3 separate regions of the Homo sapiens genome follow, and regions 2 and 3 are each linked to region 1. Evidence: fine-mapped expression QTL. A gene starts in region 1. Each other region holds a variant in brackets. All regions are shown on one strand. Distances are from middle to middle. Region 1 holds the start of SLIT2 (slit guidance ligand 2). Region 2 has its middle 120 kb from the start of SLIT2. Region 3 overlaps SLIT2 (slit guidance ligand 2).

The links.
Region 2: its variant is fine-mapped to the expression of SLIT2 in esophagus mucosa (GTEx, PIP 0.97).
Region 3: its variant is fine-mapped to the expression of SLIT2 in nasal epithelium (TOPMed, PIP above 0.99).

Annotation. Positions count from the first base shown.
Region 1 is chr4:20,247,417-20,257,996 of GRCh38, forward strand. SLIT2 (slit guidance ligand 2) reads left to right here and starts at 4,489. Exons shown (of 37, transcript NM_004787.4): 1 at 4,489-6,578; 2 at 9,256-9,327; 3 at 10,452-10,523. The coding sequence starts at 6,400. RefSeq lists enhancers at 5,605-6,403, 6,404-7,202.
Region 2 is chr4:20,126,570-20,137,149 of GRCh38, forward strand. No RefSeq gene overlaps it. Among named protein-coding and RNA genes, the nearest start is that of SLIT2, 120 kb to the right of the region's middle. The variant G/A (reference allele first, on the strand shown) is at 6,165.
Region 3 is chr4:20,267,362-20,277,941 of GRCh38, forward strand. It overlaps SLIT2 (slit guidance ligand 2), which reads left to right. Exons shown (of 37, transcript NM_004787.4): 4 at 1,449-1,520. Among named protein-coding and RNA genes, the nearest start is that of SLIT2, 21 kb to the left of the region's middle. The variant G/A (reference allele first, on the strand shown) is at 5,248.

The DNA.
Region 1 (10,580 bases):
GAAAATTAAAGAAGCTAAGATATATAAGGTGACCAGCCCAGTGTTTGGAACACAGACACTGCTTAATAAATATATTATTACTAATAACAGAAGGATGGATTTATGGTTCAACTGGTCTAATCCCAACAATGTATAAAGGAGGAAACTAAGGCGAGAGCTAAGCCGCATATCCAAAGCTACCCAAGCACTCCCACTTATCAGCAGATCAAGGTTTAGAACTTCTCCCTTTAATTTCACTGCATAATCAACAAGCAGTTATTCTGGCAGCGGGAAACCAACTTTACCTCTTCAAAGATTAGTTTATATTATGTGACACACATAGCACAAAACTAATTATATCTATCGCCACTCTTTTGTTCATGGGATACTGTAGGTCTGAGCAGGGCTTGATTATTGTAAGTTGATTTGTTCTTCTTGTAAAGTATCACCCTCAGCCCAGCCCTTCCCAGGACTCAATACAAGAAGTTATTGGATCATAGTAATAACTAAAGGAATATGTTATCTATTCTCATAATACAAATATAATATTTTAGAAAATTTCAGATATTAAAAGTAATAATGAAATACCCTTTATTTAATAAGCACCTAGCTCTATGCCAGGCCCTGTGCTGTTAGATTGAAAAATAATATCTTAATTTTCACAATAATCATGAGAAATAGGAATCAATGCATCCATACAAAAGTGGTATTAAACTGGAAAAAATCCCTATAAATATAACAGATTTTTTTAAAGGGTTGAGGCATATTCGGGCAGGTTGCTGATGTAATAACTAGGAAGCCCTTTCCACTTCTGAAGGCCATTTCCTTGGAAAATAAAACTAAAGTCTTATTGCCTCTGCGGAGCTGTACATCAAAATATTTTGGTGCCCCCTAGAGGTAATCAGTAATGTGCAATTGTCAACCCCCAGGAATGAGAAGCTGAAGACAATTCAGCAGCTGTTATCTATTATTCTTTGCTGCTTCATTCTCCGTACCAATGTGTCACAGATACAAACACAGAGCAGCTCTTGAGTAATGGATCTCAAATTTTAGTGAACATCAAAATCTCTTGGAGGGCTTGTGAGAACACAGCCTTCTGGCTTCTGTTCCCAGATTTTCTGATTTTGTGGGTTTGAGTTAGGGCCTGAGAAGTTGTATCTCCAACTACAGTCCTGGCGATTACGATGCTGTTGGTCCAGGGACCACATGCTGAGAACCACTCACCTAGAGAATCATCTCAAAGTCAAAGCTATGTCCAGAAGCAGGTCAGGTTTCAGTATCCTTGAAGTGCTGGTGCTGAGGACTCTAGCTCTTTACTGCTCCCTGTAGATGCCCTTAAGGAGTGTGTGCAGAGACATGACCATCTCCTGTATGAGGGTGATCATTCCTGAGGATCTATAGATTCCTTGATCCCCACGAGTTCCAGTGGATCTACAGATAAACAGTTGGGTGAAGAAGAATCAATTGAGAATTGAGGTCAGAGAACTTAGGTTCTGGTTCTAGCTCTGCCATTTAATAAGCTGCGACTTGCATGAAGACCAACATCCTCTACTGTAAGGAGTGAAATAGCAACCATCACTGTGGATGTAACTCTGTCAAATAGCTTGGAATTTAGTAGGCTTGAAACAAATTTTGGTTAAATCTTAATTTCCATTATATTAGGGTTCCATGTCTACGTTTCCAATACAAAGATATTGTGAGAAATATCAGATAATTTAAATGAAAGAAATATCAAATAATTAAAATGAACACATTGCAACAATGGAAAATAGTAACATGAAGGCAGTTAAATTCAAGGAATTAAGTTTCATGAATTTGATCAATGCAATTACTGTTACCTACCTCTGTTTAAAAAGACAGAGAACAATAATTTTTACTCTTCTTTATCTCTTTTTCGTAAATTCTCTTTTCTTCCTCCCTTTTCCCATATAACCCAACTTCACAACCTTTTTATTTCAAAAAAATGCAAAGTTTATTAGACATTTAATAACCTACACATTATTCTGATGCTTTTTATTTCTTTGCTGCATAGGTGATTGTCTACATTGTTTCCAAATTATTGTACGAACTGGATTTTTTTTTTTTTTTTGCAAGATAATAGGAGACTCGGATATTGGCTATAGTGGATTCCACTTCTGCTTAATCCAGGTCAGGATTTATGGAGACCTCATGTGGTGACAAGAGGCACCACAGAAGGCTTTCTTCAGGCTGGGTTTAACAGTGAAAGAGAAACTCAGAAATTCATATGGGAGCAAAATAATCCATAAAGAATTAAGACCTAGAAGTTAATGTTTCTGAAGCCTGCAAGGCCTTCAACAAACATCCTGCAGTAATACTAATGGAATAATACAGTAATATGTTAAAGGACAGGAGACCTGGTTGTTTATGTATGTATAAAATTCCCCTTATCAACTAAAAAGTTAATAACGCAAAAAATAGTAAGATATGCCTCTCAAGAATTAATTACAGTCTTTCTTTTTTCTGAATGAAATCCACTGAACATAGCTTCTTATTTAAATTGGCTTCAAATTTTAAAAAGATGTTTCTGTAGGCATGTTGCTATGTATGTTAGTTTCTCCTTGGTTTTACACAAAACAGAAAGTGATCAGAGATAGAATGAAACTTGAACTTATGTCTGTGAATTTCACTTATGCAACAATATCAATAATATTATTTATAAATATTTGGAATGCAGGATATGTTCTTGGAATTAAAATATGGAACAACAATTCTATGTGGTGCACAAAGTTGAACACAAACACCTCTTGTTGCTGACAAGATATTAAAGTTGTGAAATTAAATAAATTAATGTATCAGCAACCATATTTAACCACATAATTTACTGGTACACACTAAGGAAAATTCACTGAGGGTTGGGGGAGCTCCTTCCTCAATGACAGGTACTTGTTCTTTATCTCATTTTCCTTACAAGAAAATGTGACAAGGGCTTCTTTTTTCTCCTCCTCAAGGAAGTTACATAACAGACCTTTAAGCTAAAATCTAGAAGGACAAATGAGTTAATAAATGTCAAATGTTTTTGAAGGTTTTAAAAGAATAGAGCAATATAAATCTGTGGCATTAAAATGAGTAATCCTAAGAGTTCCAATTCAGTTATCAGATGGTACCCTGCCTTTGGGCGTGTCCTCGAAAAGGCTTACGTTTTCCAAGGCAGGCAAAATGAGGTAAGTAGGGGTAGCCATTATGAAAGGACATCTTAGAAAATGTTAACCAGGAAAAACGTTAATGAGGATATTGCAGAGATTTTAGGTTGAGCATACTCTTGAGTTAAAGAAATCGGTTACTTATGAGGAAACCTATTATGTGGCAGGCATAGATGCTGGAAATACAAAGAGTTGGACAGGTCTTGCTTTCAAGGAAGCTTCTAATAATTATACAAATAACTACTACAATATGAGGCTGGTATTAGGCGGGGGCTTGCACAAATTCCAGGGAAAGCTTCTTAACGTGGAAATGGGAGGAAGAACAACAATATGATGCATATTAAATCCAAGAGAAGGAGCAGAGTCATTTAGATGTCATTTCAAACTTACAGTGACATTGGCTCTTGCTGGGGGGGAAAGGGGGGCGAGAGAGGCAGCCGTTGCCAGACATACGTCACACTAAAGAGACAAGATGAAACAAGGAAATTCTCTTTCAAAACATAGCGGGGAAAAAAATATCCAGAACTGCCCTGAAATAAAGAAAACCTTCTGGTATAATGTGCGTTGCTAGGGATTTATTTTTTCCCCTCCTTTCTCTCATAAGAGAGTAAAAAATCACACAGATACGTTCAAGCCCTTAAGAGTTTTGTGAGCCTATTGAATATCCAAGACATCAACTGACCACGGTGTGGTTCAGTGTGTGTCTACAAAGGAAGGGTTAAACGGAAGGGGGTGGCTTGGAGATAGAAAGGCAAGCAAGAAGGTTGGAAAATGCTGTTTTCCAACTTGCAAAAACTGAACTTTTCAGCTCCCCAAAATACACGTGTGTGTCTGTAAGCGCAGGCAGATCTATTTCGGTAGGATTTTTCTTAAATTTAAATCATAATTTCTCTGTTTCTGTCTCTCTGTCTCTTGCTGCGCTGCAAAGAGTGAGCAGCCCCCTTAAGGATCGCGTGGCAAAAGCTGCAGGAGAGGCACTGGCAGGGCTGTTTATTTATGAGCCGCGTTCAAAGCCGACCTCTTCCCATTCTCCCACTGCAAACGACTATCTCCGAGCCCAGGTCACCTCTGGGGCCAAGGAGTTGGGGGCTGGGGCTCGGGTGGCTCCTTCTTCGGGCCAAGTTTGCCCGCGCGTGGGAGCGAGGGGGCGAGCCAGGGCGCACGGGAACGCGCGCCGCCAGCCGCCGCCTCCGCCCAGCGCTGGCAGCCCCGGCCTCACCTCTCCCCTCTCCCCAGCGAGGTGCGGGCTCCCAGAGCGGAGCCAGGGGGCGGGCCTGGGCCTCGAGGGGCGGGGTCAGGGGGCGGAGGCTCGGGCGGCTATATAAGGCCCGCGCCGGCTCAACTTCGGACTTGGTGTTATTTATTTGGGAAGCGCCCGGACGGCGGAGCTTGGCGGCGGCGGTGGTGGTGGCTGCCGCAGACTGTGGTTAAAAAAAAGAAGGCGGCGGCGGCGGCGGCGGCGGAGGCGGAGGCAGCTGCGAGGCATGGGAGCGCCGAAGCGCCCAGGCGCAGGCCGAAGCTGCCGCGCTTTCTGGGCACGGCGGGAGTGCTGAGCAGAAAGGGGAGCGCCGGGGGCCCGCAGCCGGCTCCGGAGGCGCGGGCCGGGTTTTTGTTTGGCTACGCTGAGCGCCAGTCAGCCCCAGCGAACAACTCCAGTTACGACAACAACCCACCTTCCTTCCAGACAAGCGAGACTTGGGCTGCTGCGTCCGTCCTATTGTTTAGACACTTGCCAGGGGCTCCGGAGTCGGCAGAGCCACCGAGTCCCCGCTCTGAGTCGTCGCCCTCCCTCTCCCCGACCTCGCTCCCTGGAGCGGGAGGCCAGGAAAGCAGCGGGAGAGGGGAAGGGGCTAGAAGGAGAAGGACTACCCGGGACTGCGGCCGCCGCGTCAGGTGCAGCGCCAGGAGCCGGGCGGCGTCGCCACGCCGGCAGGGGTACCGCCACTGTGGCCTTGGGGGACGGAATTCAAAGCCTGGGAAAAGTTGCTGCACTTTGAGAAGGACGAACCACTAGTGGGAGACCGCCGGGGGCCGGCCGTGGCTCTGCGCCCTCCGGAACCCGGCTCTTGTTTCTTCTACCTTTGCCATCAGGTGTCTGCCGCGGAGCTGCGGCTTATCTGGGAGACGAGCGGGGTTGACACGCGCGCACACACTACTGCCATTCAGCTGCCGCCTGGCTCTGCCTGGAGTAGTGGATCCCACCCGCCCACCTGCCACCGAGCCATTCTCCAGTACGCCCCAGCAGGACGCTGACACCTCCAACCTTGGCCTTTGCCTTTCCACTCCTTCCGGTCTGCCTGGTTTTTAAGTCCGCCCCCAGTCAGTCCCCACTCAGTCTTCGCAGCAGCTCTCATCCTCCACTTGGCCTCTTGGAGTTCCTCGCCGGAGTGCTGACTAGTGGATATTTCTGCCCGGCTGCGGCGGCCCGACTGCCCTTTTGTCTTTTCTGCGTGACCTCGGGGCAGGTCCTGGTGCAGAGCGTCGCCAAGGACGCCGAGCGGGAGGCGGGATTGCCCAGACATCCTTCAGCGAAGTGCATGTGTGTTTGTAAACCATCGTTGGCTGTCGGGAGACCGCGAGGACCGGTCCAGGCTGCGGCGGAGTCGAGGGCGAGGGAGAGGCCGCGTGAGTGAGCAGAGTCCAGAGCCGTGCGCCCCCAGAACTGCGCGTCCGCCCCGTGCACCCCCGCGCGCCATGCCCAGTTGCCCCGCGCGCTCTGCTACGGGCCCGCTGGGCTTCCGCGCCTTCTAGCTTCCGGAGCCCACTTTGATCGGGGCCATAATACCTATTGAGATCCCCTCTTCTGTCTTGTACCTTCGCCACTGGCATCGGATTTGCAGAAGCGTGCGTGGGATCAGAGGACCGCCCTCCCCACAACAACCGGCCCCTGCATCTTAGCAGCCGTTGGAAGCCCCAGCTCTTTTACCGCCAAGTTCATCCTTGGGAGACAGAAGACGCGTGATCTCCTCTCCGCTGCTCTTGGGGTCTCCTTGCAGCCCTGGCCAGGCGGATTCATCCTCAGGACCTAAAGTTGCCCAAGGAGCTCCTGCTCTGCCAGAGGAGGGTGGAGAGGGCGGTGGGAGGCGTGTGCCTGAGTGGGCTCTACTGCCTTGTTCCATATTATTTGGTGCACATTTTCCCTGGCACTCTGGGTTGCTAGCCCCGCCGGGCACTGGGCCTCAGACACTGCGCGGTTCCCTCGGAGCAGCAAGCTAAAGAAAGCCCCCAGTGCCGGCGAGGAAGGAGGCGGCGGGGAAAGATGCGCGGCGTTGGCTGGCAGATGCTGTCCCTGTCGCTGGGGTTAGTGCTGGCGATCCTGAACAAGGTGGCACCGCAGGCGTGCCCGGCGCAGTGCTCTTGCTCGGGCAGCACAGTGGACTGTCACGGGCTGGCGCTGCGCAGCGTGCCCAGGAATATCCCCCGCAACACCGAGAGACTGTGAGTATGCGCTCTTCGTCTTCCCCTCTCCCCATCCGGGCCGCGCACCCCTGCCTCCACTGGAGGAACCTGTCAGCTCAGGGTCCTGTGCCTGGGGCAGCCCTCGCTAGCTCTCCCCCATGCACATCCTGGGGTTGAGCTCTCCGGGAGGGCACTGGCCAGGGAAGGGCCTCTGTCCAAGGAGGGGCGGGTCCGCTGGCAGCTGCGCTAGTTCTCCCTCCCCTGCTCTCGTCCCGCCACTCGCAGCTCCTTGCTGGCTAGTTCTCTGGGGCTGGGGAGCGGGTAGATAGGGGACAAGTACTGGAGGATGCCCGGGGCAAGTGAGACGCCACTTTGTTCTCCAGAGTCCATAAACGGAGTCACCTTGCGATTGCCAGCATCCAGGTCGGTTTCAGAGCCCAGTCCTCGCTCTTGTCGCAGGCTGGCGCGGAGGGGATAGCAGGGAGACTCAAAAGAGAGAAACTTGCCTTCCCCGATTTTTTGTCACCCTCCTGGGGGCGAAGGTTAGGAAGAAGGGGTCATGGAGTGCCTGGGGGTGCTTCTCACAGGTCGCGGGGAGAAGGGTGCCCCAGGACGGCGACACCTCGCATAGTAGCCTCGCGCAGCCCCCCGCCCCCCACTTCTCCGGGGAGGGGAAGACGGCGTCAGGCCCCTAGGGACTTGTCTCAGCGGGCGACTGCGAGGGAGGACCGTGTCCCATCCGTTAAGCGAAGTTAGCACTGGTTCTCCAGCGCAAACCAGCCCAACCAGGTCTTACCACTGCGGCGACCCGGCGGTGCCCGGCTGCCCCCTCCGGCCCTTCCTGCTGAACCCCTGCGTCCCCATCCACCTTTCTGGCAGTTTCTGCGCCCCTTCACGTGGCAGCAGTTCCCCTGCCTTCCCCTCTTCGCGCTCCGTTGCTCGCAGACGTCCCCGCCTCCCTGTCTTTGCGAGTCTCTAATGAAGAAGTAAATGCAGACCCGGTGTTGACGGCCCACGCGCTCCTGATGAGGCGCTTCCAGAGTTCAGCGAAGTGGAGCATGGAGGCCGTTCTCTTTGTGAACGCCGAGGCCGCCGCCCCGCGCCAGTCCGGCCGCCCTAGGCACGTTCCGCTCTCGCGGTTGCGTGTGGGCCGGGAGTAAGCGAAGGGCGCGGGGCTAGGCCGGCAGGGGCCAGCGCGTCTGGATTCGTCCCGCGGCCTCTTTGCCCCCGGGGTGTAAGGGTTTCGGGCCGTGGAGAGGAGGCGCTCTGACCCGCACGTCTCCACCCGCGCAGCCCATTGCACTTCAAGTCGCCCTTCTTATCCAACCCATTTCTCTCGCCCTTAGTTTTAAGGCCCAAGTTGAGCCACCTTTTGCTTTGCAAATGGCTCTTCTACCCCCAGCCTCACTAGGTTACCCTTACTCCTTTCTCACCTCTCCGAGCTGGCCAAATCGGGGCTCTACTAGGGGTGCCTTGTCAGGATTCGATCCACATTTGTGTAGGGTGGTGGGTGGAGATTCGTGTTATATCGAATAGCCCAACAATTTTAGGAACAACTGAATGGTACTCTGCTTAGCATGGAGAAGTGGGTTGAGTAGAAAGGAAGAGAAGCCACGCAGAATTCTGTTTTAGCACTTGTCATTTCATGCTATTCAGAACAGTTTAAAGTTTAAGCACGAACATGTCTTACTCAACAAAAAGGGAATGCACTTGGGTGGGTGGGGGTGAGGGGGGAGCGTAGCAATTGAATTTCAGGTCCTTGAAAAAATATACATCCTTATGAGGGATGAACAAAAAGTTTCCAGAAAATAGTTTACTGGGTGCTGACTTGTAAAATTCTATCATTGAAACAGTTTGAATACAGATTTCAAACATGATGTTGTAGAGTCAAAGGTGATATAGAGCTTACTTCTATGAAGAGCATTCAAACCGCAGCAAAGCCTGGTTTTACTTGAAGTGATTGGAACCAGGGCAAGTTTAGATCTTGACCTGAAATGCCAGAAAAGGAGATCGTGACTCCTGAAGGAAAAGTGCTGCAGAAATCTGAACAAAAATGTCAGGGCCTGAATACTATTTCCATTCTTGCCCCTGTTAGTAGTTTTCACTTTACAATCACAGCGGGGTTCCCTGAGCTGCAAATGAAGAATTAAGTTTTAATACAAACAGAATTGTTGGAAGGTAAATGCCTATGAATGCAAGTCTTTGAAGTGCAGTTGTTTTGATGGCACTAATTTTTTTCTGTGCCTTAGGAAGTTTCGCCACCATGCTACCTAAGGACAGTGTTCTGAATTTTTATAAAATTTCTTCCTGAATAGCATGAGAAAATTGGGCATTTAACCTCCTGAAGGGAACTTTTTTTTTGGGGGGGGTGCCTAACAATTATAGTAAAATAGCAGAATACCTGTGAAATTAATATACAATCCTTACAGAAACAAAAATGGAAAGGACTCTCCCATACACAAAACAAACGAAAACTTTTTTGTGATAATGTAACCACTTCATTTTCTTGTCATATGCCAGCAAGAATGAACCTTGTAAATGTGTTGAGTCATGTTAAAAATATCCTTTTAAAGGTTATCCTCTTCTCCTTCCTACATACTTTGTATACTACTTTAGTAATTGAATTAACTTTTAGTTCTGATTTACTCTAAACTTTACTTGAAGCAGGTAAACATAGAAATAAAATGGAACTTTCACTTTCTGGTTTTTCTCTTAGGGATTTAAATGGAAATAACATCACAAGAATTACGAAGACAGATTTTGCTGGTCTTAGACATCTAAGAGTTCTGTAAGTGCATCCTCTGTATTTTTAAATAATTTTTTAAGGTTGCATATTTTGAATCATTACTGGCCTCAGTTTTTATGACTATTCTGATGACAGTAACATAAAACATTTAAAAGGTCATGCTTTCCTTTTTTCTGTGTTTATCATTGTACTACAACATTTAATAAAAATTGGGGCTTTTATTTTAAGGTTGGAAGCATGCCATAGAACCAATAATCCAGAAATGACCTCAGATCTTTGTTATACCATACCCTAAGCGCTTTATGCATATAAAAATGTTGAATAATTGTTTTCACAAAATGAATAAGTAATAAGAAACATTTGATACTTTTAGGATTTGAAATTAACTAAAATATTTAAGTGGATCTGTATTTTATTATTGATAACAAAAGGATTCTTATTTTTTTGCGAAAATCTAATATCAAGCATTAAAATCAACCATTCAAATTTTCAGCAGAGTTTATAATGATACATTAGTCATATTTTGAGTTTTTATATTTTGTGTCTTTGTAGCTTCTATAAAATTGTTGCAATATGATTACTTCTTTAATTAGTGGGTTAAATTAGCTGTGAGTAAACCACCACTTGCGAGTCAATGTAATGTTAAATTGTTCTCACCCACAGGATTGTAAATATTGACATCCCAGTAGCCATACAGTTTTGACCATTGTGCATTCAGTGTTCTAAGTTTTAAGAGACACATTTTGGTCATTACAAATTATTCCAGTTGCTGATGTGTATCCATGTCAGAATTGAAGTATGTATATGATGAATTACTGTATTTTGATTCTTTGGTTAAGTTGAAAACCAGTGTATCAAAGAAAGCTATCAAAGCTTCAGTGTCAAGGATTACTCTTCAGATATACTATTAGTTTAAGGGTCAGAGTTTTGACCAGTAAATCTCATGAGAAACTGCATTTGTATTAAGTTTTGTGATGCAGACACTGCTATTTCCCTTCCATGAGTTCACTCAGATATATTATTATTAAATTTGATATTGGATCTCAAATCAGAGCACAATTTAACTTTATAAAGGGAAAGAGTTTACAAGTTTTCAGTTGCTGAATTGAAATTTATTCAGATGGTGAGTGGTAACATTAAGAAGCATGTTATATTTTGCATTTCAGTCAGCTTATGGAGAATAAGATTAGCACCATTGAAAGAGGAGCATTCCAGGATCTTAAAGAACTAGAGAGACTGTAAGTATTTTCAATTCCAAAGTTATGACAACATAACTGTGTTTTTTAAAAATACTT
Region 2 (10,580 bases), 120 kb before region 1:
TCATTCTGCTCTGCTACCCTCAGTGTTAGCTTAATCATGAAGCTGGCAAAAAGATGGCCGCTGGCCTCGCATTCAGTCAAGACCCCATACACTTGTTCTTCTAGCCTTCTCTTGGGAATGATTACATAATTCTCAGAAGCTTCTTAGCAGACTTCTCCTTATCTACAGAAAGCCACAGTTCAGTCACATGAACATTCCTCACCCAATCGAAAAGAAGTGAAATTATCGTTAACTGGCTGAGACTAATCAAAGGGTAGAATAGATGCTGGGAGTCTGTCACAATGACCGCTACCTGTAAGCAGAGTACAAGTAAGGCTGAAGACCACCTTCCATCCACAGAGACACAGTGGAAAGCAAGTGGAGGGACTCAGTAAAGGGATGTATTAAGGGTTGGAGTTTCTCATCATCCCAGGCAACTTTCACATACACCAATAGCAGAAAGGGATGCGTTGATTCATCCCTACCATCTAGAGATCACAAGATCTGCCTTGCCTCACTTAATTCCATGTGAATTACATGTGAGTGTAATGAGATACCTTGAGTGCTCATCCTGTTGCTTCAGATTGTTTGCAGAAAAAGCATTCAGACTTTTTCTTTGTGGGATGATACAGAACTGACTAATTTAGGGAGTGGAGCATGGCCAAGCCTTTAGGTACTTGGTTGACCAGGCAGGCACAAGTCATGCAAAAGTCCTTTAAAATACACAGATAAAAATAAAATATACATTTACATTTTGAACATAATATAAGTGCCAACTGTTATGGACAGAATTGTATCCCCTCAAAATTTATATGTAAAAGTGCCAACCTCCAATGTGACTGTATTTGGAGATAGGGCCTTTATAGAAGTTATTAAGGTTAAATGAAGTCATACAATGGGACCCTAATTCAATAGGATTAGTGCCCTTATAAGAAGAAGAAAGGCCAGGGCCACCAGAGCTCTCGCTGCATGAGTACAAAGGAAATGCCATGTGAGGACAAAGTAATAAAGTGAAAATTCACAAGCCAGAAAGTGAGTCTTTACCAGAAATCAAATTTGTTGGCACCTTGATGGTGGACTTCTAGCTTCTAGAACTGTGTTTAAGCCACGTAATCCATGAAATTGTATTATAGCAGCCCAAAGTTTTCTAATACATCAACTTTCAAACAATTGAAGCATAAAGTCCACTAGCTAGATTTAAATCTGCTGCCTACAGATCTGAGCTACTTTGGGAGATAAACTAATGACTAAAGAAAATGTCATTACAAAGAGGCATTTGGTTGAAGAATTCCAGAGAAAGATTGCCTTATGATTCACATATGAAAATAATGCATTTTATTCACAAGGGAAAAAAACTGTTTTATGCTACTTTTGAAGATGACTTTGATTGTTCTTTTGTAAATGGATTGCTTTGTGGAAGGAAGGGAAGAAAAAAATAAGACAAATTAGATTATTGGGGAAACACAGGCAATAAGCAATGGTGGAAAGTTTCACTTCTGATTAAGATGTAGTAGAACGTGGAAGACCATAGGACCTGTGTTAACAACAAGGAAAAAAACTAACAAAATAGCATACTTTCCTGTAAATCTATTGTAGAGCAGTTGATTCAAAGAATCTGTAATAAGTTAAGGCCAAAAAGAGATGAAACATCTATAGGCAGACAAAGAGGCTAGGCATGGTGGCTCACGTCTATAATCCCAGCACTTTGGGAAGCTGGGGCAGGCAGATCACTTGAGGTCAGGAGTTCGAGACCAGCCTGGCCAACATGGTGAAACCCCATCTCTAATAAAAATACAAAAAATCTGCTGGATGTAATGGTGGGCACCTGTAATCCCAGCTACTCAGGAGGCCAAGGCAGGATAATCACTTGAACCCAGGAGGCTGAGGTTGCAGTGAGCTGTGATGGGCAACAGGGCAAGACTCCATTAAAAAATTCTCTATAGGTGGACAAAGAAGTGCAGATCTTCAAGAACTAGGGACAAGTGTCTCTTGTGAGTGTGGCTGTGCCCATGAGAGGCCCACCTTAGACAGGGAGACTTTACAATGACAAAGAAAAAACAAATGAGCTTTTCATGTCAGTATGGCTAGAAAGATAGATTAAAAATATGTGAGAGACCCAAATACAAAAGTAAATATTTCATCTTGGCAATTCCTTCAGCTAGAAATTTTGATGAAGAATACCAGAGAAAGCAGCAGTATTAGCAATGGATATGGGCTGGAAAACAGTGTTTGCATAGTCTCACTCAGTTTGTTCAGATTCAAGGGCTCTGCTGAAGGAGAATATACAAGTGAGCCAAAAACAACTAAATCTAGAACCCAAACCACTCCTAGCTCAAATCCTGAAAAGATCGAGGGATTAGACCCTCTGTGGCTACTGCTCTGAAAGCTGAGGGTAGGGCTAAAGGGTAAAGTGCAATCTCCACAATCCCATTGGAAATCAATGGTGAACACAATATAATTAAAACTTCAAGCTAGTTCTTGGTAAAATCTAATAGGGCAACTCTTCACCTTAGGTACCTGATGAAAGAAAGGGCTTTCAAACTGTAGGAGATAGAGATGGAGAGATAAAAATTTAATATCCATTTTTCCTTTAGATATACTGTATGCCATGTGGTCATGTGAAGGGATTATGAAGAAGTAGGAAAATATGGCCTATAACTAACGGCAAAATTAATCAATAGAAGCAAAATCGCAGATACTTCAGATCATGTAATTAGTCATCAAAGATTTTAAGAAAACTATTATAGAAATGTTAAATGTTTACTGTAAGATGGAAAGAATGGCTGCGGATATGAAATATTTAGAAGAGATATCAAATAGATAATAGAAAATCAAATTGATATTTCTAACTGAAAAGAACAACATAGGAAACAAAAATGAATTAGTTTGTTTTAGAAACAAATGAACAAGGCAGAAGGAATAATTGGTAAACATAAAAAGAGATTAATAGTAATTATCCAAATAAAAGTACATGAAGAATATAAGATTGGGGGAAAATGAACAAAGGATAAGATTTATTTTTTAAAAAATATTACATTAGCAAACATACATGTATGTAATTTGAGTTCTAGAAAGTGAGAACATAAAGAATGAGCAAGAAAACTATTTGAAGAAATAATGACGAAAAACTTGCAAAATTTGACCCAAAACCTTAACTTACAGACCCAAAGCCTAAGGAAACACAAAGGAAAATCAGAACAAAGAAGTTCATACCTAGGTACATCATAGTCAAACTTTGGAAAACAAATATAAAAAGTCTAAAAGCAGCTACCAGATAAATAAGACACAGTGCATACAGAGCGGGGGGAACCAGACGGCAAGGGAACAACATCTTTTAAAGTGTTGAAAGATCAACTTAGAATTCCATACCTAGTGAAAATATACTTCAAAATGAGGATGGAAGAAAGAAATATTCAGATAAAAATAAGTAGATATGATTCACTTCCAGTAAACCAACACTGCAACAAATGCTAAAGGAAGGCTTTTAGGCTGAAGTAAATTGCAAATGAAAACTAATGTCTAGAATAAGGAAAAACAATAGTGGTTAATATGTGGGAAAATATAAATACTTTTTAAAATAAGATTTTAGATAGACTGTTGGCTTTTAAAGTTAAAAAATATATTGTGTAGTTTATAACACAGAGAAGTAAGATACATGAAAGTAACAAGACGAAGAATGGAGAAATAAATAGAATTATCCTGTCACAAGTTCTCACTTTATTTGTGAATTGCCATTATGTTAACTGACAATAAATAGTGATAAGTTAATAATGCACATTATGATTGCTAGAACTAATAAAAGTAAAATAGCTAAATACATAAATTTTATATAAATAAAATATATATATATGAATATATACAAATATCATAACTAAAAAGTTAAAAGCCAGAATAAACTGAAAACGAAAAATAATTCAGACAAGGTTGTAATAGTGACACAATGCATTTGTCAAACACATAAAACTTTGTAGTACAAAGAGTATATGCAAATTTAGAAAAGTATCATTGAAGAAGCTAGACAGTCCCTGGAAGACTATAGAATGTAATAACAAAAAAAACCAAACTATATTACAAATGTATGAAACGATCATACATTGTTACTCAGGTGCTGACCTAAGTAACTTTAGAAATGAATGCAATCTGCATAATAACAATTTTTATAACCCATACATAAGCATCATATTCTAGTTGATAAAGTTATCACCCTCTAGGATATAAATAGCAAGATGATAAAATTAAACCTAACTGTGCCAAAATTTATCTCTATGGTAAATGGATAAAATACATTCATTAAAAGGCAGAGATAACAATCTTATAAGTTACTATTAAAAAGAATAAAAACAAGCAATTGCATAATGTCTAAAAAGATGCACTTTACATATGAAGACTTAAACAGTCTAAAAGTAAAAGGATAGAAACAGATATATCATGCACATCCTCATCATAATGAAATGGGAGAGTTCCCTGCTTCCCCTCTCAGAACATGCGACAGGAGTGTGGCTCACCTGTGTTTGCCCCCACAGCTTAAACCTCTACAGGAAGGGGAGCACACAGACAGGCATGTGCAGGGACCAGGGTAAGTGCTTTTGGGCTCCAGCCCCACGGCAGTGTATAGAGGTGGGTGTCTGCGACTCCCAAAGCCCAAGTGGGTGTGTGTTACAGTGTGCTCCTTTAGCTTTGCTGTCTGCAGATGGCTTGTGTGTTAATCAGCTCAATGTACCTTCTGCCTTATTGCAAGGGAAGGGGTCCAGTGTGACAGTCCTCTGTATCCCGAGCTCTTGCTAGTGTCCTGAAAGAATCAGGGCTTGAAGGATGAGTGCAAGGTTTTACTGAGTGGCGGAGGTGGCTCTCAGTGAGATGGATGGGGAGCGGGAAGTGAGGATGGAGTGGGAAGGTGGTCTTCCCCTGGAGTAGAGCTGCATCATTCCCCTGTAGCTGGTCTGCTGGTCCACCGGTCTGCTGGTCTGCTTGCCTCTTCCTCTCCTCACTTGTGGGTCTCATCTGGAACTTGGAGTTTGCAGTTTACATTAGGGCAGCATAGGGGGCACGCAGGCCAAAAGGCAACTTTTTGGTAGCAAAAACAGAAATGCCTGTCCTCATTTAAGGCCGCAGGTCTTCAGGCTTGAGGGTGGAGTCTTTGCTGGGGAACTGCCCTCTTATACTCAATATTTCCCTCTCACGTCCATATCAATAAGATAGTATATATGGTTATATTAATCTTAGACAAAGTATATTAAATACAAGTAATATTACCAAAGATAAAGAAGTATATTTCACAATAATAAAACTATTAATCATCAAAACAATGTAACATTTTTAGTGAATATCCACCTAATTACAGAGCTTCAGAGTACTTGATACAAAAATTGACCATAACTAAACAGAGAAATAGACAAATCCACAACTACTTGTGGATTATAAGTGATTATAATCATTTATGGACTATCTTGACAGTCATTTCTCAGTAACTGAGGATATAATTAGACAAAAGAAAATCAGTTACAATTCAGAAGATTTTAATTTGATATAAATTATGTTTAAAAAACACTGTACCCAAATTTGGGTGACACATTCTTCACAAGTGCGCATGGAACATTCATTAGATTAATTAAATGCTACTTTCATAAAGCAAATCTTATTAGTTTTGAAAACCATATGATGATGAGTAGAAAAATGATTTGACAGAACTTAACATCATTACAGATTTAATCTCTCTCAAATAAGACTAGAAGGGAATTTACTTAATCTCATAAAGAGCATCTATGAAATGCCTATAGCAATTGTTGTAGTGAATGGAAAAATACTATTTCATTTTAAAGATCAGGAATAGGCAAAATATACATATTCATCCCATGTAGTTTGCACAGTACTGGAGTCCATGCCTGATGAAATAAAGAAATTAAACAACAAAAAAATGGAAGGTAAGAAGAAAGACTGTTTTAGTTCACATATGATATAAACATGTATATAGAAAATGTAATGGATTTTTAAAAATGTATTAGGACATATATAAGAATTCATAATGTTTGCAGTATACAAGGATGATATAAAATTTAATTGTTTTTACACATCAACAAAGAAATAAAAAATAAAATATAAAATACTGTTTACAATGTCATAAAAACAAAATTGCTATTCCAAAATTTTTTAATCACCTACAAAAGCTGATGATTTATATATAACTA[G/A]CAGCTACAACTTAGTTATAACTAGTAGTATCTAACTATGTAAAATGTGAAAGGACTTCCTTCAGGCTGACACAGTTTTGATCAGATGGAAATATAGATTTTTACAAAGGACCAGAGAGACCCAGATATAGTGATTATGTGGTTATATTTAAATGAGATTTATTTTAAACACTTAAAGATGTTTTAAAGTTACATGGCTTTTTAATGTAAAGTGAATATCAATGCATTGTGAGGTTTATATCATATGACGATATAAAATGTGTGGCAAGAGTAGTGTGAAGACCAGGAGAAAATAAATGGAAGAACACTATTGTAAGATTCTTATACTGTATGTGAAGTGGTATAGTATCACTTGAATGAAAACTCCAAAATATAGTTCACGGTTTATAAACTGTAAGCTAAAGGTGTAAGCTATAAACCCTAGAACAAATACTAAAATAAATCAATGAATATTTAAAGCTAATAAAGCACAAATAAAATTGAATCATACAAAATAAACTATATAAAATAAGAAAAGAAGCATAACATGCATAACAAAAGAAAACGTATGGAAAATGAGGAATAAGTTTACAATCAAATTTAATCATCACATTAAATATAAGGGACTGAACACCCCATTTAAAAGGCAGAGTATTTCAGGTTAAATATAAAAGCAACACTCAATTGTGTATTTTTTTATTTTTATATAGTATATATTTATCCCCAAGAATCCCATTTTAAATATAAAGATACAAATAGGTAAACAGTAAAGGATGTCTACAAATTAGATAGACAAAATGGAAAATTCCTAGAAAGACACAAACTAACAAAATTGACTAAGGAAGAAATAAATAATTTGTATAGACTTACAGCAAGCAAATACTTTGAATTATAATTTTTAAACCTTCAACAAAGAAAAAAACCTAGACTCAGATGGTTATACTGGGGAATTCTACCCAATATTTAAAGAAGAATTAACATCAATTCATCACAAACTCTTTCCAAAAAATAGGAGGAATAATTTTTCAATGTATTATATGAGGCCAGTATTACCCTGGCACCATGACCATCCAATGATATCACAAAAAAATACAAACCAATATTATTTATGAATATACACATAGAAAAACTAAATACTAGCAAATCAAGTCTGGCAACATATTAAAAAATATTACGTGCCATGACCAGGTGGGATTTATCCCTGGAATGCAAGGTTGCATCAAATAATTTGTATAATATACCTCATTCATAGAATAAAGAATAAAAATTATATAATCATCTCAATAAACACAGAAAAACGTTGATAATATTTGTCTTTTATGATAAAAATACTCAACAAACCATTAATAGAAGGTACTCCCACACTTACTAAAAAGTTGGTGTACAAAAACTCCGGAGCTAACAACATAATTAATCAGAAAGAACTTAAAATTTTCACCTTAACATCAGGAATGAGAAAGATATGTCCACCACTCTCAGCACTTCTATTTAACGTTATACTGATGATTCTATCCAGGACAAATAAGAGGAAAGGCAGAGCTGGAGGGGAGAAGGAAAAGGGAGAGAAATAAAAAGAGAGGAGGAAGAAGAAGAAAGAAAGGAGAAGAAGAAGAAAGAAGAAGAAGGAGAAGAAGGAGGAAGAAGAAGGAGGAGGCGGAGAGGAAGAAGAAGGAGAAGGAGGAGGAGAAGAAGAAGGAGAAGAAGGAGGAAGAAGAAGGAGGAGGAAAGGAAGAAGAAGGAGAAGGAGGAGGAGAGGAAGAAGAAGAAGGAGGAGGAGAAGATGAAGGAGAAGGAGGAGAAGAAGAAGGAAGAAGAAGGAGAAGAAGAAGAAAGAGGAGGAGGAGGAGGAGAAGGAGGAGGAGGAAAAGAAAAGCATCAATATTAGAAAGAAAGGAAGAAGTATATCTCTCCTTGTAGACGACAATTACTTTTATAGAGAAAATCCTACGGAATCCACAAAGATGTCACTAGAATTAAAAAAAAAATCAGCACATCCAGTTTGCAGAATACAAGATTACTACACATAACTCAATTGTGTTTTTATACCTTAGTAATGAACAATAAAATTTTTAAAAAAGTTCTATTTGCAATCATGCCAATCATAATAAAATACTTAGGAATACATTTAGCAAAATAAGTTCAAGACTTGTACCTTGAGTACTAGAAAACATTAGTGTTAGAAATTAAAGAAGGCCCAAATAAATGAAAAGACAGTCCCAGAAGACTATTCTTAAAATGACAATATTCCCAAAATTGATCCAAAGATTCAGTGCAATCCTTATAAAAATTCCTTCTGATGTCCTTGCAGAAAATGCAAACAGATTGTAAAATTCATATGGAAATGCAAGGGATTCAGAGTAGCCAACATAATCTTGAAAAAGAAAAACTTGAAGGATGCGTACTTCTTGAAGGACACATACTTCTTGATGTCAAGGCTCTGGCAATCAAGAAAGTGTAGTGCTGGATAGATATATGAATACATGGAAATGAATTGAAAGCCCAGAAATAAATTCTTCTATTTATGGACAGTTGATTTTCTACAGAGTTAAAGTTTTATTCAAATATTTTGAATACAATAATTCAATGGGGGAAAGAGCAGTCTTTTCAACAAATGGTTCAGGAGAAGGCCAGAGAAAAACAAAACCACTGCAAACCCATAGCCAGAAAGGAAAGGAGCCAGAGGAATAAATGATTTAACTTTACTCTCCTCCCATCCTCTTATACCACTAGTACCTTGTGATCTTCAACAACCTGCCTGAGTTCGAGGAACACAGTTGATGCATCTCATGAAGAGTTGTCACCTTTGAACATAGAGTATAAGAAGTCAATACAGGGTAGGGCTAGAGAAACAAATTAAGAAAATTGAGAAATTAAATTAGGTTACATTAGTCCCATTCTGATAATCCAGGATAATCTTCCCACTTCAAAGTCCATAGCTTTAGTCACATTTGCAAAGTCCCTTTTGCCATGTAAGGTAACATATTAACCTTATATGTTAAGGTTAATGTTAAGGTTATATGTTAAGGGCATTTTTGTAGGACCAGCATTTTCTCCACAAAATGATTGCATGTTAAATGATTGGAATGATTGTCTGTTGAATTATTCTTTTGATATAATGCAATTTAAATAATAATTGTGCTACACACACACACACACACACAAAAACCTGTACACAAATGTTGATGGCAGCATTATTCACAACAAAATCAAAGTGGAAATTACGTAGATATCCATCAACAGTTAAATGAATAAATAAAATGGGGTATGTCTATACAATGTCATATCATTAAGCAATAGGAAGTAGTGAAGTACTGGAAAAACTTGAATAAACCTTTGAAAGATCATGCTAAGTGAAACAAGCCAATCACAAAAACACATTCTATGTGATTTTTTTTTATGAGGTGCCCAGAATGAACAAATGTACAGTGAAAGTAGATTGTTGGTTGCCTATGGCTTAAAGGTGGGGTCTGGGAAAAAATAGGAAGTGACTACAAATGGATACAGAGTTTCTTTTGAGGTTAATGAAAATATTCTAAAGTAAATGAATTATATCTCAATAAAGGTGTTATAAAAGAAGTTTTCCTGACAAACTTAAACTATTGTTTAGTGTTAGTGGTCAGGAGGTCTCCTTTAGGGGAGAAAGAAAAGGGGAATGGTCAAAAGGAGTCCAAGGGAGGCTGTTAGTATATCCACAATGTTTTATTTTTTTACCAATTGGTCTTACATGATTGTTCACTTTGTTATGGTTTACTGAGCTGTATATTTATGATTTATGTACTTTTCTGTATCTATGTTACACTTCAAAATAACATGTATAATTTTTAAAAGTAACAATAAGTGTGTTTTTATCCATGACAAAAATAAATAACTATTGTTTGGAAGTGTTATAATAATGACAGGGAGAAATAAAAAATTAAGGAAACAAAAATAGGCAGTAAATTGGGAGACCCAAGTCTGAGTGGTATTAAAGGTTACTTTTAGCTTTCTTGCTTTCAGGCCCACTTTGTTTTTTAACAGCAAGTAGACTGGATTTAGGTTTGTGACATTGGATATACTTTTTAATACATTGAATCTGAGATGTCTTAAAGACCTCCAATCGACGATGTCAAATAAGACGTAATGTACATGTTGAAACTTGCGGAGACATATGGTTTGAACTTTTTGACAACTCTGTATCCTCCTCCCACCCTCTACATGTCCGAAGAATGCTGCTCTTTATGGGATCCCTACACTGTACCTCTTGACCTCTGGGTGGGGTTGTCCTGGCTGAGTTTGTCCTGTGGGAGGTACCAGAAGATGAGAGGTAGAAGGAAAGTAGAGTTCATACTTAGGACTGATAAAAGCTTCCAGCCTTTACTAGCTGCATAGTGCTTTAGCATCTCTTTTAGGTTTCTCTTATCCCTACTCACACCTCTATAAATAGTCCTTTATTAAATT
Region 3 (10,580 bases), 20 kb after region 1:
TGGCATACTTTTTTTTATTAGTATGCATTTTATTAAGGCCTGAGAATGTTTCTGTAGATGATCAACTTCTTTCTGAGTTCACATAAAGTTATGGTGCCATCATTGCTTCATGGCATTTTTTAGAATGGAAAGAAGTTCTGAAGTTTACCTGGTCTCGCTTCTCACTTACAGGATTTTAAAAAATTATATCATTTTCCAAAAAAAATTCATAGCCTCTGCTTGAATACATTTTGAGATAAGCAGTTGAGAGTTTCCATTTCTTAATAGCTAATTCTTAGAAAGGTCTTCTGTATAATCAAATTTCTTAGGAGTTACAATCAAGGGGCCCATTTCTGCCCTCTGGAGACTAAATAAGTATAATTCTGCATCTACCCGATGACCCTTGCAATATGTCAAGATTGATATGCCCTCTTTTCCTGTCCCTTTTACTATTTATCTTTAAAACTTAAGAAATACCTCTGGTTTCCTCAGTGTGACATTACCTTCTGGAACTATATCCAGAAACTATACTATATAATATGCCTCTACTCCTCTCGAGCTAGGCAGCTTGTAAGTCATTTGAGTGCAAAATGTTACATCAGCTCTTTATCGTTTTATTTAGATTTGGGAAAAGCAGAGAAATAGACAGTTATTTTAAATTAAATGTTAAATTGTACACTGAAAACAGATGGGATTGGGATATGACTACATCACAGATAGTATTTACCCACTCTTTCTTTAATAGGTGTGCATACCAAGCATCAGGGCTTAAATTGAGTTACAGTTGCAATCACACTCTTTTCTAAAACATTTAAAACATTCCAATTTACTTAGACATTTTAAAACATTACTGAAACTGATTTGACACAACTGTTAGTTATAATGCTGAGCCTTAAATTCAGTTAAGGGTTGGAAGCTGTGGGTTGAGGTTTGAACTCTGGGTTGGTATTCTCCTGATTTTGCCTATGGGACAAATCATGCTGACAATTTCTCACACCTTTTTTTTTTTTCCTCCCAACTAAATGAAAAGCTAAGAAAGTTGAAATTTCCATCTCCCCACAATTCCTTGGCTGAACTTTTAGGCCAATTGGGACTGTGTATGGATTATTTTAGACACCATTCACTGTGGTATTTCTGCTGGATATTGAAGTCACCTACCTTAGGCGCCTAAGACTGAATCACAAAAATCCTTTATCATTGTGTGTATTCTGGTTGACTGATGTTGCACAGGATTTCAGTTTAAAGTTTAGACCCCAGTAATCATCATCTTAGTAAGCACAATGGAAAACTGCTGTAAAGAGTCATGTAACAAAAGGTGTAACCAACTTTTGATTTGCAATGCTTGAATTCTCCTGAATGTCATTTCATTCTTTTCTGAAATACAGGATGAGGCATGACACTACCAAATCACAGTCTCATTGTTGGGTATTTTCTATGTAACATAAGCTTTGTTTTTGTTTTCTCAAAAGGCGTTTAAACAGAAATCACCTTCAGCTGTTTCCTGAGTTGCTGTTTCTTGGGACTGCGAAGCTATACAGGCTGTAAGTAGACACAAATAGTTATTGTTGCTTTGGGTAGTACCTTGTGTTTTATTAAATGTATTTTGGATCTGTTTGTGTGTGCTTTCCTGGAATCTGTTCATCAATAGATTAATGGATTAAAAGTTTGTGTTTTTTCTTTAGGAAATTTATGATTTGTTTTCTAGTGGTTCCAGTTGTTTTATTTGGTTAGGATTTAGCGGTTTATGTATGTGTTATGGAAATTGGATTATTATTATTTTTTTGGTAACGTGATGATGGCGAGATTTACCTACCTTTTAATGGAAATGTTTGATTAAGTTCTGAAGGGAGAAAATTGCTACTGTTTCCTCTTAAGAGGAAGTTGGCAGTGTGTTCTTATAAAGTTGAGATTTTTAATGTCAGCTTTTTTGGTATTGTTTCTGGGCTCAAGTAGTCGTGTTTATTAGTCCGAAATATTATTATAAGGTATTTAAAGAGGGCTGTAAATTTCCTCTTAAATGTTTCCTTTAAAGCCACAATTTCAGCCTCTGCAATATGAATGACTGTATGGCAAGGTTTTCATATCAAATACGTCATAGACTATTAAAGGAAGTAATTCCTTAAAGGAGCATAATGTGAGTATTAGGGGGAATCACTTTTTCCTCCCTGGAATGCTTTTGCACTGACCTAATGTGTAATAGTGAAAACACATTTTGAAAGCATTTAAAATGAGATTTTCAGCCATATGAAATGACTTTGTGCAGATGGGAGATAAGCTACAAAGTTTTGGAAAAATAAATAGCAATGATTATTGAGGTATATGCATGTTGTGAAAAAAACTGCTGGAATGTATAGAGTAAATTGCTCCATTAGCCCCCACCTGGATGGTGGGTGTCCCATATGGTACTGTTTGTAGAGAAAGTGAGCATAGTTCCTTTTTCTGAACTTGTCTTTGTAGCCTACTAGTTCAATGTGGTTATCAATTCCAGAAGTAGGAGGACTGTCCTCTCACACCCTTCACCCCCAAGAATAGCCAGGATCTTTGTTACATCCTCCTGAAACCTTAACAACCTTAACTTACTATAGGGAGATATTCCCCAGCTGACATACCAGATCTCTCCAGAGTCTTTCCTGACTTTGTTCCTCTAAGGATAGCTAAAATCACCTGACATTTTTCTCTTCTTTTTTGTGTTCCCTGCTGCTCAATTGGACCAATTTAAGTAAATTTTAAAAATAAAATGAAGAAACCTTGGAATTGCATTTTTAACAAAAATTATCTAATAACTATTTTTACTTAGGAAATAGGGTGTAGGTTTGCTATAAAGATTATAGGTATGCATATCAGTAGATAATTATATCTAAATATTTGTGCTTAGTTTCTAAAAAGGGCCATAGAATTGGTTTTGATAGTATTTCACTTTCACCTTTAGTTATTGGTGACTGAGGAGATTTTTAAGGAATCGACTTGGATTAATTTCCCCCAGTTTAAGGTGGTATAATCCATTGCAGAATCCCTCATCAGCAAATTATATTCTCCTTGACATTTTGCCATCTTTGACAATATCTCATAGCAGACCAAGAGATTTTCTTTTATGTTTTGTTATGATTTTATAACTGTATGCAGCTGCTGTATGAAAAAAGACTTGAAATCTTTAAGTGAATTAAAGAAACAGAATCCATAAAACCTATGACAGCATTTCCTAATTAATTAAATGCGTGTTGGAAAATGGGGAAACAGGCAGCTAGAAAATGTGTTCAGATTTTTTTATGTGTCTTTCTGGCTCAAAGGATTTGTCCTGGGGAGTAATAACAGCTAAAGCAGTGTTTGTTAGGTGGAGCTAGTTACAAGAGGGATGTGAATATTTTTATGTTTCAGGAGTTATATAACTTGATGGCCTAGCACTCAATATTGACAAAGTGTATCCCTTTACATGAGATTTGACATCAGATTTAGGCACTGGATGTACATAGAAAACTAGAGGTGGAATTTTTATTTGCATCCTCACGTCAGGAATCTTAATTTGAGTTAAGGAACTGTTGCTTCATCTGAATTAGACTTAGGTGAATTGTTGAGTGCTTTTTCTCTCGAGAGAATAAGTTATAAGCTGCATGTGACCACTTGTTTATGATGGTGATAATTAATTAAATTAAACAACTGCCATTGGAAGTCTTTAATAAACAAAGGAACACGTGCTTGTGAAGCTCACTACTGGCTAGTGTAATTATGAAAAGCAAGGGTACAAGTTCACATTTTCTCACATGATACAGATGCCAAGTAGCTCACCTGAAACAAATATTCTAGCAGATGGGAAAATGTGCACAAACCTATATGCACAACATCCTTTATAATGCTCATTTAAAAACATATTTTTTTCACAAGAAGAACAAGTGACAGAACAAAGGATATGGAATTTTTGACAAATAATGGGGAAAAATGATAGGACAAGGAAAGTATTTGATAGTTGATATATATATGATCGTTTTATAAATATGTGTAAAACAATATATAAGTATTCTATAAATATATATTTATAGAATATATGTTTTGACATTTATATAATATATAATTATTATACATAGTATATATTTATATGTAATATAATATATAATTAATTTATATATAATATTTATATATAATTTATATTTATATATTATATATATATATATAGCAAGCCATAGTTGCCCCTACTGTCTAATGCAGTAGAGGCATACTATATGCAGAACTCATAAAAAAACAAATTTAGGATTTACTTCCTCTGTATAGGTTGTTCCGAGATACGAATTAATGTTTCAATTTCTTTTCTTAGTTATTGTATACTTTATTCATACTTAACACTATGTTTTCCCAGGTATATCACTAATAAAAAAGTTTACTGGTTTAATACATAGTTTATACACTGAAGTTTGATTTTTCGCATTGTTTGCTTAGATTAAAGCTAGTTGGATATACTGGACATTGTGTTGCTTTTCTTTGAGCTTTGGAATAAATAATCGCCCTTTGACTAGTGGTTGAAAATAAGATGCCAGGGGAAGAAGCACACATGCTTTTCATGGACTCTAAATGCAATATAAAAGAAAAGGAGGGTATACTGTATATGAATTATGATTCGACACACTTGGTTGCTGCTAGCGGCCAAATATGCTTTTCCTTTGCTGTCTGCTCCAATTTCTCTTTGGACGGGTTGAGAGAGCACTACATGTTCAGGTCAAGATGTTTGCTCAGAAATAGTAGTACAGTTGCAGCTGTGTTTGTTGGAGTAGGAGACTAGTTTAAATAGCATTACCATTTATCCAGTCCATTAACAGAACTCTGTAAAATAATACCAACTCTGCATAAACTACAGGACAGTGTAATAAAATTACAAGCACTTGTTGACAGATGGAAAGTGCAAGTCCAGGGAAACTAAAATAAGGGACGATAGGTTGGAGGTTAAAAAAAAAAAAAATAAGCCAGCATGAAGTTTTCTTAACTTATAGACTCTATCTTCCCCTTTGCTCCTCCTCCAAAATCAAGGTTGCATTTTTATTATGAACCTAAGAGTAGAGGAAATTATTTTTAAAGAAATCTGGAGCTGGTTAACTGAAGAAGAGATTGCAGGGAATTTTGAAACAGTTGATTATGATTGATTGAAATTTATGAGTACTAATACAAATCTTCCTGATAAGTGTAACCTTAAAAGAGGCTTAAGAGTAAGTGATTCACACTTTTTGATGAGTTTGCGACTACTAATCTGGACTCATTAAAGAGGAATTTCATTGGTAGTACTGC[G/A]GTTAGGCATTTGGTTATAAATATTTGTTTTGTGGTTTTCGGTTTATTTCTTTGAGTATATTATATTTACTGAGACTTCTAACGTAAGCTTAAGTATCCAAAGCACTTTTTAGAAACTCATTTTTCACTTTTATCTGCCAAACCAAACCAAAACTAAACAAACAAACAAAAAGAACTGCATCTGTCCCAGGGACTCATTTTCTCTACTTCTTTGAATGAAAACTTTTTACTTCTGGTTCTCAAGTGCCATTCATGATTCCCCAGTGAGTTTTGGAGCGACTAAATTATCTAACATTAGGAATGGTATTTTTAAGGCCAAAGACTCTCTTTATGGCCTAGTGAATACTTACCTGAGACAAATAGGTTTTGACTGCTTAATTTCATTGGCCAGGTCATAATTCATTATCTCTCAGATAGGATTTCAGATTCTCAAAATTGCTTTTGATAACTATAATAATTGGGACTTTCTTAAGAGGAAAACTTAATTTTTTTTATTAAGGTAATCAATTAATTTGTTCAGCATAACAAATATATATAATTAAGCTGTCTTTATTTTCCTTTCCATCACTGCCATAGAAGGAGACTTATTTTTTTTTAATAGTTATAAGAGTAACACATGCTCATTGTAAAAAAGATCTAGGAAATTCAGAAAAAAATAGAAAATAGGAAGTAAAAATTATCTATTATCTCACTACGCAGATATAGCCATTATTATACTTATCAATTATTATCTTAGAATTATTTTTATGATTATACATATAAGTGCTACTTAGACGTGTATTATGAAAACTTTTTTTTAATGTCCCCAGGGTCTAGTATAAGGCTTGACCTTTAGAAGCTCTCATCAAGTGTTTGATGTATTGAATTAAATCTCTGTTGGGTTCAGGGTTTGTAACTTGAATGAGCAAATAGTAACTCTGGGACGGCATTATAAATAATGGAGAACCAAATTAAATTTAAAGGATAACTTGGTCAATTAAATGTTTGATTCCCCTAGGTTTCTCAAACATTGAAGTGTTTCAGTAGACATAACACAATCAAAATGATCCATTTTTCACCTAAGCAAAATATACCTTAATTTAATAAAATGTTTTATAAAACGAACTCCCTAGTTCTTGGATGTCAGTTTAGTCTCATAGGTTTCTTGGAGTCAACCATGAAAGCAGGATACAACAGAGGAGCCCATGTACAAATTTCTCTTGAATTAATTTCTGCCAGCTCTGATTAAAGTGTGGACTACTAGAGATGTCAGGTGCCATCGTTTCCTGCTTCATTTTACTCTTGGCCTGTTTGGCCCCTGCCACAATAAATCCGACTGTGATTGTGCAGGAATTGCAGGTTACAGTTGCTACGGTTACTGTTGTTCAGCCAGACCGACATCATTACTCATCTAGCGCGCTGCCATGATAGCTACCGCTGATTTCTGTTGCTGAGACTGCCAAAGAGCTTCATGTGCTAAGGGTGAAAGTTCCGTCGAAGGTGGCGTCTGTGTTCTAATTTGGTGTAAGGAAACACTATCTGAATTATATACTGATACTTTGCTAAGGGGAACAGATTGACTCTGTATCGAGAGAGAAAACTTAGAAAAGTGTTCACTTTCAGTGATTAAAACACCAAGTCCTTCATTACTAAGGTAACTTTTTAATTACTTATTGGGCCCAAGGGACTATGTTTTTGCCACTTAAAAAATAGAGGCATACAAGGAGTATTGCATTTAAAAAAATTACCACTATTTAACCAAAACTTTATTTTCAAATAGATAGGCAACAGACTTGATATATGGACATCTGAACACAACTCAAAATAGCCATTACCACTTGTCATGAAAGAAAGAAAAGTGCAAAGCCCTGAGCAGGACCTACTTCTACTTTTATTTTTTAAATCAACGTGTAATCCTGTGATTTAAACGTCCTAAATCCAATGAAGATTAAGATCATATTTGAGATTTTGCCAGATCTAGTGTTGATGGTTTTTACTTCAAAGGAATTACTAATAGACTTGTTGCTAAAGAAAGCTAACAGTTGTCCGGTTTCTGCTGTTACCAACACACAGAGTGGACCTTCTGAGTGTGAAATCCACAGCATAGCTCATAGCATAAGAAAATCAAATGCAAGAATGCAAGAAAGTTTCTGTGTTTTTTTTTTTTTCACTCAGCTGTACTTATTTAAACGACTGCTTTCACAAGTGCAAATGTTTCTAACTCCACCAACAAGTACTTATGGACTGCCAACTTGAATTTGTAGAATACTATGATCAATGCTCAGAAGGGAAACTAACAAAATATGTGGCTCTATATAATATGTGGTATTTGTGGGCCTCAGCTGTTGCTAACGTCTGACCTATACTGCGTGAATTAATGCCTAGAGAGTTCATTGAGAGTGATCAAATATGTGAATTTCAGTCTATCATATTCATGTAAAAAATATATCGTATACACATAATCAGGTAATATTTTAAAGTTTTTAAATAATGAAATTGCCACTACAATCTCAAGGTTACAATTTTGGGGACTGAAATTTACATAAACATTATTTCTAGGAATAAGGGTTGGTAGGGTTTTAGTTATATTTAGGTAATTTTAATGTATTTGCTTTATGTTTTAAGACACTGAAATCAATTTACTTTCTATCTTAAGGGAGGTTGTGTAAAATGATAGTGTTTAAATGCCTACTCAGATACTTGCAGTTCTGTTAACTTTGGAAGTCAGTAGACAACCGTATTGTTGAGGTTTCTTATCTGTAAAATGGGAAGGATCATACAATTTACTTTCTGGGGATAGCACAGTAAAATTTAGATTCCATATTCAAAGGAACATTGTAAATTTTCAAGTATGATAGAAACTATAATTATATTATTGTCATCCTTTCATTGCAAGCAAGATGGAAATGATAGTCACTCAGATGTCCTTGCAACTTGCCCTCAGTCAGCAAAGTTCCTGATACTATTGCACAGCCCTCTTGCATTTATCCTTACTGTAGTAACACGTAAATATGTGTAGTCACATTAATTATCTTACCACAGCAAATTGACATAAAATGTGCATTTGTACCATGTTATTTCTCTTTACTTGGCTGCAGAAGGTACATTAGGGCCAGGATATTCTTAATGAGATCTCTTCATGCTCTCCCAGTTGATGATTCATATAGTTTTAAAATTCATCTATAAAATAAATTACAGATAGAAACAAAAAGACTGTGACTCAGGAACTATTTGTTAGTGCATATATTTAGATTGCTGTTTTAATGATGTGTTTTTCTGAATGACAAATGAAGGAAAAATACAAATGTTAGAAAATGCTGAGTAAACTCCTTAAACTATAGGTAAAGTATTCTGAAAGTTGTTCAGAAGATTTACATATGTTGCTAAGGAACACTTTCACTACTAATAAAAATTTTATTTTTTAAAATAATATAAGATTACTCTGTTAGCTTTGTAATATGTACATATGATTTGATCTATGGAACATTGTCATCTTTATATAAATTGCATAGGTGATTTTAAGTGTATTTTTAGACTACTAATTATGTCAAAATCCAGTAAAAATTGCAAATCTTTTAGCACTTTAAATCTAAATAATGTTACATTATGAGACAAGTTTGAACCAGAAGTCGTTTTGTTTTGTTCTTTTTTCCACAATTCCAGTACTTCTCAAAGTAGCATAGATCTATATGGTGTATATCCACTCATTACATGTTACCTATAACTGAGTTGATTATAATCACTGAATTTTTTCTGGAGGGTTAACCTTAAAATATTTTATAAATTTTGATATAAGAAACCTTTGGATGGAAGTTTTAAAAGAAACTAAATCTTAGAGAAGGAAGCAGTGAAGAGTAAAAAGACCAGTCCTTGACAACACCTATGGCCTAGGGTACAGCATAGAGGTGTGAAATGTTATTAAGAGAACATCTGTGTCTCTTGAAACATCCCCCAAATGAAAGTTTATAGCAAAGTATGGCAACTTGATTTAAGTGTTAAAAACAAAACAAACAAACAAACAAAAACTTAAAAGAGAAATAAGTAAATCTGGAAACAGAATTGGAAAAAATAGCTTTGCCCCATCATGATAGGTTTCTTCTGCTAGTGAAAGATTAAAGCTCGAAGTATGTGAATAGCTGAGAACAGCACAGAGAAAGGTTGATTGCTTCCCCTCCGACAGTTCCAATTGATTGAAAAAAGCCTAATTTAAAGTTCTGTTTGTTCTATGTCTTAAACCATCAGAATTCTCTTTTGGGACCTGAGGAATGCTCTGGAGGAAAAAGAATCCAAGGATAAAAAGTCATTGCAAGCCAACAATTGTTCCTAATCCTCACAAAATGCTGGAGAAATTAAATTTATTCTTTATTGCTCAAAGTGTTACCTAGGTCACTGGGCGATGGGAAAATTGGACTGGAAGTCGAGTAGGCGCAAGCTTTGTTTTGTGTCTAGATGCTTAACCTTAGACACGACAAGGCATCTTAGAGTGTTGTGGGAACTTGGTTCAGAGCATTAACACCAAGACTTTTATTACCCCGGATTTATAATAGGCTGTGCTGTCAGGAGATGAAAATGTTGTGTTTACATTTCAGTGTTAAATGATCATTTAATTAACACCTAAGGGGAAAAAAAACTTGTGAAATTCTTAGCAGCTTTTATTGTTGGTTTCCTGGGAGGTTTTAATATCCAAGTTTCATTGAGAATTTTTTTGTAAGTAAAGACACAAAAGACATTATAAACTTTTTAAGGAAGACAAACAGTTTAACCTTGACCCTTTAAAAAAATATTAATTTAAATTAAATTTTAAATCTGGTGTTCTTCTCATAAGTTTCTAGACTAATATATTAAAATACATTTTGATTGGACACTACTTTTGTGTAAACAGTATATAAATATGATTGAATTTACATTATACATTTTCTAGGGTAAAACATTTGAAATTACTGATTAGTTTATCTTAAGAAGTTTAAAATGTTTAGAACACTGACTTAAACATTTTGCATCTGTTAAACTACCACTGTAGTTACATTGTTTAGAATCTGCCTCAATGTAGGTATTCATATGCAAGCATATTCTATTGGTAAGTTATGTCATTATTCTATTATTTTTAATCATTAATTTGGATATAGCTACATCATGATGAAAGATTTTCATCATGATGTAGCTATATCCAAATTAATATATATATATATACACACACAAACACAATAGGGAAGAATAATGCCATTAATATGAAAACTCAGATTCACTTAATTAGAAATAACTAAAAGATTAGACGTCATAAAATGCTTTTATTTACTCTTGCTCTTTTATGAGACAGTTAACCAAAAAGGAATGGTCTTGAGGCAGAGTGATAA